2 separate regions of the Homo sapiens genome follow, and region 2 is linked to region 1. A link means that fine-mapping ties the variant in region 1 to the expression of a gene that starts in the linked region. Tissue or cell type: whole blood. Region 1 holds a variant in brackets; the other region holds the start of a gene. All regions are shown on one strand. Distances are from middle to middle.

Evidence for each region. PIP is the estimated chance that this variant, and not a neighbour inherited with it, causes the effect.
Region 2: ATXN7 starts here. The variant in region 1 is fine-mapped to the expression of ATXN7 in whole blood (INTERVAL, PIP 0.97).

What each region holds. Positions count from the first base shown.
Region 1 is chr3:63,951,018-63,953,781 of GRCh38, forward strand. ATXN7 (ataxin 7) reads left to right here. Exons shown (of 13, transcript NM_001377405.1): 5 at 1,362-1,466. Among named protein-coding and RNA genes, the nearest start is that of PSMD6-AS2, 52 kb to the right of the region's middle. The variant C/T (reference allele first, on the strand shown) is at 1,299.
Region 2 is chr3:63,862,316-63,864,815 of GRCh38, forward strand. ATXN7 (ataxin 7) reads left to right here and starts at 1,552. Exons shown (of 13, transcript NM_001377405.1): 1 at 1,552-1,843. THOC7 (THO complex subunit 7) reads right to left here and starts at 1,490. Exons shown (of 8, transcript NM_025075.4): 1 at 1,457-1,490. The coding sequence starts at 1,475. RefSeq lists silencers at 1,209-1,428, 1,759-1,998, 2,009-2,228.

The DNA of each region.
Region 1 (2,764 bases):
TTTACCTCTCTGTGAGTCAGTTTTCTCTTCTTTAGAGGGGGGATATAATGATGTCTACCTAGGTAGTTGTGAGGATAAAAATGAAATAATAGCTTGTAGAAACTACTCGGTGCTGCAAGTACATCCCCAAATCGTGCTAGACTCTAGTATATTTCGGATTATAGCTAGCTATCTGTGCAATTCAGTGTAATAGAAACTGTTTAAGAAAATTCAAGCCATAGCCATGTGTAGATACTAGATCAGTAATTTGATATTTTAGAGATTATCCTCACTTGACATCTCCTTAAGGAATTTTCTTCTCCCTTTAAAACCACCAGGATCTCCCCGGCTGGAGAAAGTGTGAAATTAAATCTTCATAGGAAAGAAAGTAGATGCTAATCAGCTTTTTGGATCTTCCCCCTTGTCCTTTAAACTTGGTATTTGATCTACTAAAACTTTTGCTTAAATTGAAGTGTGCTAATTATCCATTCATTGCAGATATTCTAAAGAGTGAATGTAGTGTAAAATGCTGTTTAAAATCCACTGATTTTGAAATACTTAAAAAGTTAGATTCTGGATCTGAACTTTTAGCTCTGTTCCCCAAATTGTTGTTCATAATTAATTGAATGGTTGAGATGTTTTAGTTAACCATATTTACCAGGTATCAAGTTACTTTCAGTTTTCATGTATATGCAGACAGTTTAGTTTTACTTTTGCATTTAATTAAGTTGCTGTCTTACTGTTAAAACAAACAAACAGCTCGTATCCTACCCTATTTTGGTAACCAAACTGATTAATATATGAAATGCTGTTTGTACTAAAGTTCATTCTGCCTTTCTGGTGGCATTAGTATGTAAGCAAAAGGACTAGAGGTTGCTATGACTTGGAAAAAATATATTAAAATAATTTTCTTTATATGACATGCTGGCAAACCAGCAGTTCTATTCCTCTGTCTCTGCTCCCTTTCTTAATTGTTCCATAGAACTCAGGAACCAGAGAGCTGGAATAGAATGCACAGTTAAACAAAAGCATTAGATGGTACAGCTTTGTGAACTAAGCAGTTTACATGGTTGCAGATTCTTTCCCTTAACTCTTGGTAGAGTTCATCTAATGTTGCTTTATTGTGCAAATATATTCATTGTTTGCATTTTAAAAGATTGTTTCACCACATCATAATTATTTTTGGTGCACTTTAACCCTTTTTAAAGTGTGTCTGTAAGCCTGATTTGATTTCTCTGTTTAATAGTGGTGGTGTACCACATCAGTTCATTTGTCCTGGTATACTTTACAATAAGGCAACTCCTTTAGAAAGTAGTTTC[C/T]CAAAATGGTTTTATATCAGTCAGAACCAGATGAGTGAGTGATGCTCTGTTTCTGTGTTGCAGACATGCCAATATTTGGTTTCTGTCCAGCCCATGATGATTTCTACTTGGTGGTGTGTAACGACTGTAATCAGGTTGTCAAACCGCAGGCATTTCAATCACATTATGGTAAGTGCTTAACCATTTAAAAAATTGTTAATAGAAGGTAAAAGGTAAAGCAAGATTAAACTAAGGAACAGTGATGGCATGCATGGGACATAATGTCCCTCCCCCACCAGGAAGTAGGCTTTTTAATTCACTCAGTGGGTTAATAACTATCAGATGTTGGGTATTTTTAAATTTTTATTAAAAGTGATAGGAATTTTTTGACTTTTATTGAAATTAGAGAAAGTATAGTTTATAAAATGTCTCTTAAAATGTTGCATCAGTATAATTACAAGTTTGTTTCCTTCTGGAGCCCCTGGTTGTGAATTCAGTGGATTTTAAAATTATATACACTCACAATATGGATGCATGGGCCTTTTTTTTTTTTTTTTTTTTTTTTTTTTTTTAAGGAAATGTGATTTTGAAACTTCTCTGTTCAATAGTTCTAAATATTGGGTGTTAATTGTTGAAGAATCCAAATACAGTTAGTTGGCATTGTCATAATGCCTTTAAAGTGTTTAAGATTCTGATTCTAAAACTTGGTTTTCTGCCCAGTTTGGCTCAATAGCAAATCATAAGTATTTGAATACGTACCTTGTTTCAGGCATTGAGTATGTAGTATGATTCTTACCGCCACAGAGTTTACAGTCGAATTGGAGAGGCAGGCAAAACTAACTAGATATACTTTAAAAATAACTATAAGTTTTTTCCTCATTGCTCTTACTACTACAAATGCAAGCTTGCAATAGAGTAACATTGGGGTTCTTCTATAGATAGAGTGTTTAAAGAAAGCATCTTAGGAGGTGACACTGGAGCTGAGTCCTAAGTGATGAGAAGGAGCAACTCGGGCAGCAATCTAGAATAAGAGCGTTTGATGCAGAGGGAACAGCCAGCACACAGAAGGCCCGTGTGGCTGAAGGGTATTTAGTATTTAGAGAAGGGAGGTAGAAACTGGAGGAATCCAGCATTATAAGCAGGAACCTGATATTCATAGGCCAGGCTAAGAAGCAGCTTGGGAGCACTGGAGGATTTATGTAAGAGAGTAACACAGTCCTATTTCAGTGGTTGATTTGCTGAGAAAAATTTCTGGGAGAAGGACAGAAGTAGGGGGAATAGTTCAGAGGCAAGAGATGACACCGGACTGAGAGTAAGATCTGGCAGTAGAGCTAGGAAGACTGCATAGCTTTGAGATACTTCTTTTTTTTTTTTTTTTGAGACGGCCTCTCTGTCATCCACGTTGGAGTGCAGTGGTGCGATCTCGGCTCACTGCAACCTCCGCCTCCCAGATTCAAGCAATTCCCTTGCTTCAGTCTCCTGAGTAG
Region 2 (2,500 bases), 89 kb before region 1:
GAGGCTTTCTCATTTCCATTGATTGGATAAATAATCTTTGTTACATGTTCCTACAGTTCCCAACCTTGTACTTCCTTGTGGTAATATTTGTCACTCTTAAAACTCATTAGTCAATGTTTCTTTCCCTTCAGACCAAAATTTTGGAGAGGGAAAAGTTCTTGCTTGTTAGTTCTGGGTTGTAATCCCAAAGCCTAGTCCAGGAAGGATAAATATCCACTAAATAAATGAAACTGGAATGAAGCAAAGCTGAAATTCCACATGAAGTTCCTGGGTCTTTAGTAGCCTCCCACCTCCACTACTCTTTATCAGTCTGGAAATTTGGGCCTATCACTGTTCTTCCCATGGCCAGGCCCTTTAATGTGGAGACCCTGGTGGTCTTCAACTCTTAAGAAGTGGCCTCTCCACAGGCATTTACAGTTACCGGTCACCATCTCCTGAAAAACACCCAAGAGCCCTAGATATCCCCTTCCCAGATATCAAAGGACCTCCTTCCTCCCTAACCAGATACCTTGTAGGTTCTCCCTCCAGTTGCCAATCATGCCCCTTCCCCCAAAGTGTCACCTTATTTCCGCTCTCAGTCCATAGACCATCTCCCTTAGACTGTCCACAAACCCAGCCTTTGCCCCTCTAAATTCATCCCAGCTGACAACCACCCTTCCTAACACACACACATACATCTTTTATCGTCCTGATCTACCCTAGACGGTCTCATCACTATACTGGCTCCTCCTTACCCCCGTAAATCTCCCAGGTACACTTCCTGATCACCCTCCGGATACCTCATCCCTATCTATTCCTTTTATAAATAATTCCCTGCTCCTCCTTCTCACCCACAATCCACTCGCAGTTCAAGGCCTCATTGCCATCGACTCCACTGTCTGTGAGTGCTTCCCAATATGCCCCAGGACCCCTCCTGGTGTCACGCTCTGTATCCTGACACCCCTTGTAGACGAGTCCCGAAATTCCCGCCCCGTCCCTGGAGCTCCCACTCCCTCCCAGACCTCCACAAACCTTCCAGGCCCCCAGCCCTAAGCCCGGCACCACTGTCCACCCTTCGCGGCTCCTGGGTCCTCACCGCGCCCCTAGACAAACCCGGACTCCCTCTGGTCCCACCCGCCCTTGCACCGCTTCTAGCCGTCTCGGCCACCCACGTGTGTTCCCAGCCCACCGACCACGCTCCCGGCACACCCTATAGCCCCGCGCTGCCTCCGGGAGAGCGGACGGGGAAAGCCGAGGGTCTCCGAGGGGCGCTCGGGCTCTGGCGAGAGGAGGAAGGACTCAGGGAAGCAGCCGGGGAGGCCCGGGGCTCCGGGGAGAGGTCGGGAAGGCCGAAGCGCTCTGGCGAAGAGGCCGGGGAGGCCGAGGGGTTCCCGGAAGCGGGCCGGGAGGCCAGGGGTCTCAGGGGAGGCCCAGCGGGCCGTGCAGCGGGCGCGTGTGGCGGCGAGCGGGGCCTCACCGTCAGTCACGGCTCCCATGGCGTGCGCGGCGGCGGCGGCGGCGGCGGCGGCGCAAGCTGAGGCGGCGGTTGGCGGCGGCGGAGGTCAAACTCCCACAATGCAGCCGGGTAAACAGCCATGGAGGAGGAGGCGGCGGCGCCCGCGGCCGCCTGCTCCGACGCCTGAGCCGCGCCGCGCCGCGCCGCCGCCGCCGCCGCCGCCGCCGCGGGACCCGCGCTCCCCGCGCTCCCGGTACTCCCCGGGGGCGGCCGCGGCCGGCGCGAGTTGGGGCGAGGCTTGGCGGCCGGCGGCGGCCCCGGCTGCAGCCCGGGCTCCCGCCGCCCCCCTTGCAGCCCCCGCCCGGCCCACGCCCAGAGGCCGCCCCGGAGGCCGCAGCCAGCCGCCAGGTGAGCTCGCCCGGACGCCGCCAGGGCTGCGGGGGTGCGGCGGGAGCTGCGGGCCGCCCGCAGTCGGGGTCCCGGCTTCTTCCCCGGGAAGGTGACTGCGGCCCCGCCGCCCCATCCAGGGTGACGCTGCTAGGGGTGGGCTCGTTTCCCTGGGGGGTGGGGAGGGTGACGGGGACGCCCGGATCCGGCTGAGCCCAGGAGAGGCGGGACTAGGGGTACCGAGGGGGGCGCGTCGCTGGGGGTCCCCGCGAAGTTGGCGCCCACGCGCGCTGGGGCGGGTCTCGAACGCCGGCACTTGCGCGGGGCGCGGCCGGCAATCAAAAAAGGCCCCGGGTTCCAGGTCGCGCGGTTCCGGCCCCTGCGGCCGCCCCCTTCCTTCCTGGGCTCGGCGGGTGCGGGAAAAAGGGTGAAAGAGAAACTTGGCGACCTCCCGGAGGAGTTCGCGAAGCGACCAGGAGCGTGTTGCCATCGTCCTCACCCGGCACCCAATTCCACCACAGAGTCGGGATTTCGTCGGTGATCGTGATGGGGTGCTTTTATTTTTCTCTTTGATTTTCAAAAAATGTCTATGTGACTGTCCCTATCTTAAGGGGAAGTTGAAAGTGGGGGCGGGGGTGCTCAATGAGAAACGTTGCCTTGTGTGTAGTTGTTTGGAGC